Regions from separate parts of the Homo sapiens genome. Here regions 2 and 3 are each linked to region 1. Evidence: fine-mapped expression QTL. A gene starts in region 1. Each other region holds a variant in brackets. All regions are shown on one strand. Distances are between the middles of the regions. Region 1 holds the start of SPRED1 (sprouty related EVH1 domain containing 1). Region 2 has its middle 52 kb from the start of LINC01852. Region 3 has its middle 13 kb from the start of LINC01852.

The links. PIP is the estimated chance that this variant, and not a neighbour inherited with it, causes the effect.
Region 2: its variant is the best candidate, but not a certain one, in a credible set for the expression of SPRED1 in monocytes (TOPMed, PIP 0.55).
Region 3: its variant is the best candidate, but not a certain one, in a credible set for the expression of SPRED1 in whole blood (TOPMed, PIP 0.56).

Annotation. Positions count from the first base shown.
Region 1 is chr15:38,251,214-38,253,972 of GRCh38, reverse strand. SPRED1 (sprouty related EVH1 domain containing 1) reads right to left here and starts at 1,137. Exons shown (of 7, transcript NM_152594.3): 1 at 756-1,137. The coding sequence starts at 787. RefSeq lists silencers at 928-977, 988-1,047, 1,228-1,327, 1,428-1,477, 1,488-1,787 and 2 more.
Region 2 is chr15:38,123,502-38,126,260 of GRCh38, reverse strand. No RefSeq gene overlaps it. Among named protein-coding and RNA genes, the nearest start is that of LINC01852, 52 kb to the right of the region's middle. The variant A/G (reference allele first, on the strand shown) is at 1,394.
Region 3 is chr15:38,084,142-38,086,900 of GRCh38, reverse strand. No RefSeq gene overlaps it. Among named protein-coding and RNA genes, the nearest start is that of LINC01852, 13 kb to the right of the region's middle. RefSeq lists a silencer at 827-886. The variant A/G (reference allele first, on the strand shown) is at 1,496.

The DNA of each region.
Region 1 (2,759 bases):
AGTTAATGAAATCACCAACATATTCAGCAATGTAAATTCGGTTACATCAACGTAAATCATGTGTTTTCACATAGCTGAAAGGTAAAAATTAGCATTCAAAATTCTTCTCCGTTCCTGAAGACACGTCCAATATTCACAAAGGTAAACTCTAGCTCAACATCGCCCACACTCCAGGTGTCCTTAATCCTATTAAATTCTAAAAATGTTTCCCTAACCCTATTTTTTACAAGAATCTTACAGGTCATAAGTTTAAAAGGGGGAGGGGGGAGAGGGTGAAGGCTTAATCGGTATTTAAGAGTCACTGACTCATCGAATTAAGATTCAAGAGCAGTTTGCTGCAGGAGGTGCTCCCACACATTAGTTTCCAAGTGAAACAGCTATAAAGGAAGTAGGATGGATACTGAAGGTATGGTGACTGGTATGTGAGTGAAAAAGGACGGGACAGGGGTCTCACAGGCAAAGGGGTAGTTTCTACTCCACTTCCATCCATCCACATTATTCCCTCTCATAGACGTACAATTGCCATCCTCTCCCAACACTTAATCCCCTACCCCAAAAGAAAGCAGCTAAATGTGGGAGGATGGGGAGGGGTGCTGCCACTAAAAATGGCTAAAGAAATCAGCTATCTCCAGAAGATGCACCGAACTCTCCAGGGTCGCAAGCTTTCCGGCACCCAAGTTTCGGATGGGTCTGGGGGAGAGCCGAGGGCGGATAGGGGGAGGGGGATTAGCAATCGAGATCAATGAGGCGCTTACTCGTTGTCAGAAGTCGCCGTCTCCTCGCTCATCTTTCCCTCACCGTGATCCGATCTGGAGATGGAGGAGCAACAGCAGGCGGGGGAGCAACAGCAGCACCGAGGGGCAGGAGGCAGCGGCGGCCGGGGGGGCGCGGGGGCAGCGGCACAGGGGCCTCACCATGGTGGATGCCTCACCCAGAACGGTACCCCCCCAGCCGGGAACCCCGGCCACCCCCGCAGGGGGGTGGCGGCAGCAACCTCCGCCGTGGCGACCCCAGCCTCTTCCCCCGCCTCAGTGCCCAGCCAAGGGATCCGAGGAGGCCCGGTGGAAAGGGAAAAAGAGAGGGGCTGCAAAGGCTGACTGGAGAGCTGCTCCTCCAGCCACTGGGGTGGAGCGCAGCGGGGTCCGGCCAGGAAGGAGTCGGCGGGCGGAGAACCCGGGAGCAGAGGCGGCGCTTCCCTCAGGGATGCGGCGAGGAGGAAGCAGAGCTCCGCTCGGTGGGGGCCGGCGGGGGGGTGCCGAGCCCAGGCTCCGGGCAGCGGCGGCGCGGTCCTGCCGGAGCCCACCCCACCATCTCCCGCCTCGCCGCCGGCTGCCCCTCAACCCCCGGCGGCGTCTGGGTCGGTCCTCAGGCGCCGGCAGAGCAGGGCTAGGGGCCCCGCGGCGGCGGATTCCTCCAGACACGCTCCAGCCGGGACTCCTCCTCAGGGGGGTGGAGGGGGCGGCGGGGAGCGTGTGAGGCGAGGGGCAGGCAAACCGATCGTTCCCACCCGGCCGGAGAAGAGCGGGCGGGCCCGGGTCCGGGGGGCAGGATCCCGAGAAGCGGCGGGAGAGGACAAGAGCGGCTGCAGGTTCCCCGCCAGCCAGTGCCCACCAGCAGCTCAGCGGGCCAGCTCCTCACGCCCGAGAGAGGGGAGCCGCGAGGGGGGCGGCGGAAGCGCTCACGCCGCCCGCTCCTTCCGCCGCCGCAGCCGCTGCCCGAACCGGGGGCGCCCGCGAGAGAAGGAGGCGAAGTAGTCCCTCGCGACTTCTCCCGGCCGCCCGCTTTCCCCGGAGGCCAGAGCGGGCGCGGGGTGGGGCTGCCGAGCGGGGTGCCCAGGCTGTGAGGGTGTGTGGGTAGGACTAAAAGCCGCGGCCTCCGGGCGAATCACTGCAACTCGAAGTCATGTGCAGCATAGCAAGTTTCAGGAAAGTAGTTCCCTCCTCCCTTCATTTCCCAAATCGTTGTCGAGCCACTTAGCGGAGAAAGGGGGAGGGAGGCGGAGGGATATCCTCCCTGCACCGTGCTCGGTGTGCGTGCGCGCGCTCCAAACTCTTGGCACGCCGCGAAAGGGGGCGGGGGTGGGAGCTGCGAGGGGAGCTGCTAGGGAGGTTGCATTGTTGTGGCGCGTTACTCCCCGTTACTCTGCTTGGAATATCCGGGTTGCTTGAACGAAGAGGCTAGAAAGACAGTGTGCTCAGAGGGGAAATCTGGAGGCTACTCTCTTCTGCCGTGTGTGTGTGTGTGTGTGTGTGTGTGTGTGTGTGTGTGTGTGTGTTTTCTTTGCAGAGCAAAGAATGGAACTGGCATGAGTTCATCTTTAGTTAGTGGGGGTTAGAAGCAGGGACTGCAAAGAGAGCTCCTCCTGCTGTCCCCCTGGTTGCACTGCTGCAGTCCCCTAGCTGCATGCACGAAGTGTATGTGTGTGTGTGTGTGTGTGTGTGTGTGTGTGAGAGAGAGAGAGAGAGAATATGAGAATGTATGTGTGTTTTAACACCTCGCCTCGCTGCCTGGATTCTTACTGCGCAAGGGGTATGCTATCAGGGCATTCATCTCGGAAAGCTGGAGTGATTGTTAATGGAGAACGACTTCCATTGAAGCCCAGGGTAGGCGTGTTACATGAATCTGGCGCAGCCAGAACGGAGGAAATAACTCCCGCTGCGAGTGAGGTTGCATAACTATAGCGCAGGAGATGCTTCTGTGGCACGAACTGCTCTGAACGGAGGCGGACCGATTGGATAGACAGCTGTCACGAATGCATT
Region 2 (2,759 bases), 130 kb after region 1:
TGATGAAAAAGGACTGCTTTAGACTTAGGTAGGCAATTTTAGTTGACAGTTATGTGCATTCCCTTTTTATTTTATTTACATTTTTTAATTTCTTTTTTATTATTATACTTTAAATTTTGGGATACATGTGCAGAACGTGCAGGTTTGTTACATAGGTATACATGTGCCATGTTGGTTTGCTGCACCCATCAACCTGTCATCTACATTAGGTATTTCTCCTAATGCTATCCCTTTCCTAGCCGCCCACACACTGACAGGCCCCAGTGTGGGATGTTCCCCTCCCTGGGTCCATGTGTTCTCATTGTTCACCTCCCACTTATGAGTGAGAACATGTGGTGTTTGGTTTTCTGTTCCTGTGTCAGTTTGCTGAGGATGATGGTTTCCAGCTTCATCCATGTCCCTGCAAAGGACATGAACTCATCATTTTTTATGGCTGCATAGTATTCCTTGGTATATATGTGCCACATTTTCTTTTCTTTTTTTCTCCAAGACAGAGTCTCTCTCTGTCACCCAGGCTGGAGTGCAGTGGCGCAATCACGGCTCACTGCAACCTCTGCCTCCCAGGTTCAAGTGATTCTCCTGCCTCAGCCTCCCAAGTAGCTGGGACTACAGGCACATGCCACCATGCCCAGCTAATTTTTTTTGTATTTTTAGTAGAGACGGGGTTTCACTGTGTTAGCCAGGATGGCCTCAATCTCCTGACCTTGTGATCCACCTGCCTCGGGCTCCCAAAGTGCTGGGATTACAGGCGTGAGCCACCGTGCCCAGCCCACATTTTCTTTATCTAGTTAATCATTGATAGGCTTTTGTGTTGGTTCCAAGTCTTTGCTATTGTGAATAGTGCTGCAGTAAACATACATGTGCATGTGGCTTTATAGTAGAATGATTTATAATCCTTTGGGTATATACGCAGTAATGGGATTGCTGGGTTAAATGGTATTTCTGGTTCTAGATCCTTGAGAAATCATCACACTGTCTTCCACAATGGTTGAACTAAATTACACTCCCACCCACAGTGTAGAAGTGTCCCTATTTCTCCACAGCCTCACCAGCATCTGTTGTTTCCTGACATTTTAGTGATCACCATTCTAACTGGCATGAGATGGTATCTCATTGGGTTTTGATTTGTATTTCTCTAATGACCAGTGATGAAGAGTTTCTTTTCATATGTTTGTTGGCTGCATAAATGCCTTCTGTTGAGAAGTGTCTGTTTATATCCTTTGCCCACTTTTTGATGGGGTTTTTTTTTCTTGTAACTTTAAGTTCCTTGTAGATTCTGGATGTTAGCCCTTTGTCAGATGGATAGATTTGCAAAAATTTTCTCCCATTCTGTAGGTTGCCTGTTCACTCTGATGATAGTTCCTTTGCTGTGCAAAAGCTCTTTAGTTTAATT[A/G]GATCCCATTTGTCAATTTTGGCTTTTGTTGCCATTGCTTTTCGTGTTTTAGTCATGAAGTTTTTGCCCATGCCTATGTCCTAAATGGTATTGCCTAGGTTTTTTGGTTTTTCTAAGGTTTTTATGGTTTTAGGTCTTATGTTTAAGTCTTTAATCCATCTTGAGTTAATTTTTGTATAAGCTGTAAGGAAGGGTCCAGTTTCAGTTTTCTGCATATGGCTAGCCAGTTTTTCCAGCACCATTTATTAAACAGGGAATCTTTCCCCATTGCTTGTTTTTGTCAGGTTTGTCAAAGACCAAATGGTTGCAGATGTGTGGCGTTATTTCTGAGGCCTCTGTTCTGTTCTATACATCTGTTTTGGTACCAGTACCATGCTGTTTTGGCTACTGTAGCCTTGTAGTATAGTTTGAAGTCAGGTAGTGTGTTTCCTCCAGCTTTGTTCTTTTTGCCTGGAATTGTCTTGGCTATAAGGGCTCTTTTTTGGTTCCATATGAAATTTAAAGTAGTTTTTTTCCAATTCTGTGAATGGTATCTTGATGAGAATAGCATTGAATCTATAAATTACTTTGGGCAGTATGACCATTTTCAAGATATTGATTCTTCTTATTCATGAGGATGGAATGTTTTTCCATTTGTTTGCATCTTCTCTTATTTCCTTGAGTAGCATTTTACAGTTCTCCTTGAAGAGGTCCTTCACATCCCTTGTAAGTTGTATTCCTAGGTATTTTATTCTCTTTGTAGCAATAGTGAATAAGAGTTCACCTATGATTTGGCTCTCTGTTTGTCTATTATTGGCATGCAGGAATGCTTGTGATATTTGCACATTGATTTTGTATTCTGAGACTTTGCTGAAGTTGCTTATCAGCTTAAGGAGTTTTTGGGCTGAGATGATGGGGTTTCCTAAATATACAATCATGTCATCTGCAAACAGAGACAGTTTGACTTCCTCTTTTCCTAATTGAATACCCTTTATTTCTTTCTCTTGCCTGATTGCCCTGGCCAGAGCTTCCAATACTATGTTGAATAGGAGGGGTGAGAGAGGGCATCCTTGTTCTGTGCCAGTTTTCAAAGGAAATGCTTCCAGCTTTTGCCCATTTAGTATGATATTGGCTGTGGGTTTGTCATAAATAGCTCTTATTATTTTGAGATACGTTCCATGAATACCTAGTTTATTGAGAGTTTTTAACATGAAGCGGTGTTGAATTTTATCGAAGGCCTTTTCTGCATCTATTGAGATAATCATGTGGTTTTTGTCATTGGTTCTGTTTATGTGATGGATTACGTTTCTTGTTTTGCGTATGTTGAACAAGCCTTGCACCTAGGGATGAAGCCGATTTGATTGTGGTGGATAAACTTTTTGATGTG
Region 3 (2,759 bases), 170 kb after region 1:
TTCATATTATTCTGCAACTTGTTTTTCACTTGAGCAATCAGAATATACAGATCTATTTTTATCTGGTGGTCTGAATTGAAGGACGCTCACATGGCTTTGACTGTCTTTTCCTGCTGGAGATGTGTGGGTGAGACAAAGGCATAGAAGCCACTGGTCCTCTAACTTTACCTGGAGGGCATGTTCAAGTGAGATTACTACTCACATCCTCCCCATTCCGCCCAAAGTTTCTGATTTTAGAAACCTGTCAATAGAGAATTTTAAATAAGACATATACCTTTTATTTTATACATGTTTCCAGGAAGGCATCACTGTGATGCATTATAAACAAGCTGAAACTGCAGTGGGCAGTTTTCCATGGTGGGATATGGAAACACATTCTCTGAAATGTGATTCTTCCTATATCTTCTCTTTCTTACAGTTGGTTCTAAGCAAGAACAGATCTACTGAATGGTGAGAAAATGGACAGGGAGTCTTCAAACTTCCTCCTTGTCTGTGCTCCCAACCTCTTTCTGTGTCCTTTTGCAATCCCTTCAGTAGTTTCTCCATGTGACTACATTTTACTGCTTTTGTCCTTCTTACCAGTCCTTCCTCTTGCTACCAAACTCTTCCTCCTCCTCACTTTAAGAAGGCACTCTTAAAAAGTTGAAGCTTCTAGTCCACCCAGAAACAAATTGAGATAAGCTTTTTGAGAGGCTGCTTTATAGGCTGTTTCAATTCAGAGAGATTAAACAGGATGACCTCACTGAAAAAGAAACCACACTTAATAGCTTTAAATGGGACTGCTCTTAGCTGGGTCACCCTGAACCACTGCATACACTTCTTGTTTCAAGTGAATGTGGTGGTTTGGGCCAGAGTGAGTTGTCCGTGAGATAGTTTAAATGCCTTTGCTTTCAGAAATGAGCCAACACCTTACAATGTAAGCAGAGGGAGGGAATATGTAGGTTTGTCTGATATTCAATCCCAAACCCTGAATCCTATTCCTGAGACATCTTGGGAAACTGGCATTCTCTTTCTCTGCTTCTCTCAATGAGAAATTTGTGGAATGCAAGTTCTTCAGAATAGAGACTCCATCCATGTCTCACCCACGTTTATCCTAAATTAGGGACTTCAGATGAACACAGTTTAAGGTAACAGCAAAGAGCATCTCCTTTAAATCAGAAAGACCAGATCTCCACTCCCAGCTTCACTATCAGGGCTGTTGTTGGGGTCAAATAATAAGTTCATACAAGAGCTTATCACAATACTTAGAACACAGTAAATATTTAACACATTTTAATTATTTGTTAGTTTTTATCTTGAAATGGAAGCTGCCTCTATCAACAGCCAACATAAAGAACTCTGGGCTCTGTCCCAAAATATGTGGCCCAAATTTTAACTAAATCAAGACTTCTAGAAAGCTTTTCCTAAATCTCTTTGACTTCGTGAGGGATACTAACTTTTAGTAGCTTGCTCTCTCAGTCTTCTAAAGGGGAAACAGATTTTGCCAACATTAGGA[A/G]GTCTTCATTATTAATAGACATTGTTTTGAGTTCCCCCTGGCCAAGTTGCTGACTCAATACTTCTTGTTTTAGAAAAAGGAAGTAGCTGAAAGGCACCTGTTAATGAGACTAAAGTACCACAGTGTCTGTGTGTGTGGGTGGGTGTGGGTGTGTGAGCGCGCACACGTGCGAGAGAGGTGGGGAGAGACAATGAGAGAGAGAGAGAAGAGAGTTAAATCCCATTCTTCGAGTGAATATGAAAACCATCATATAGAAAGATGAGGTTCACGGTATATCAATTTTCTTGAAATGTCTAACTTTTATTTTCCCTTAAACATGCTTTTTAATTTTTGCCCTTAAGAAGTGTACAATAGACAAACCAATTGTTACTGTAATGGAAAGATTTTATTTCCTATAGCTTTCTTGATAAATAAAATTATTAAATTGGAATTGCCATTAACTTAGTTATAGAGTTCTGCAGTGTTACATCAAGTTATGTATTAAAGAAATTTAAAGAGGGTTTTGTAAGATGAGTGAAGGATGTACTTCATTCTAACTCAGTCCTTTTTCTTAGAACAGCCTTTTCTAATACAGCAGGACAAGACCTGTGGCCTTAAAGAGAGGTTTCAAACAAGGCACGTTACTTTCCTCTTTTATTAATTGATTCAAGCTTATCATGGAAACACATTTATTACATGTCTCCTATATGCCAAGGTTTGTGCTAGGGGTTGAAGATACAATCTAGGGAAAAGCAAACATAAAGAGGTAGAACATTGAGACTTACAAATTCTGTTGAAAAGAAAATAAAAAAGTAAAAGAGGTAGAACAGGATAAATTCTCCAGTAGAGGTAAGAACAGAGAGCTGTAGGGATGGAGGAAGCAATGACTAATTGCCTGTGGTCAAGGAAGGCTCAACCAGAGGAACTGACTCTATACCATGTAAAAACAGCACACTTTGTGGTATAACACCAGCCAGCTTCCTGCATTTTGATTTCTGACTGACCCAACTTTTGCTTTTGATCATTTCCTTTGGTTGGTCAGTCTGCCTGAAGCTCATATTCTACTCATACTCTATTTTTCTATATATTTCTAGAATCTAGACAGGATATGTGTTTGGCATATAATAGGTGCCTAATCAATGTTCAGCTGAAACGATGATGGCTCATGGCTTCAATAAGCTTCCATCCTCATTCCTTTATGCATAGAATGGATCTTCCTTTTTGTATTTAATCCCACATTTCTCCTCAATTTTAACTTTCATGATAAATTATTTGTTGGAGCTTT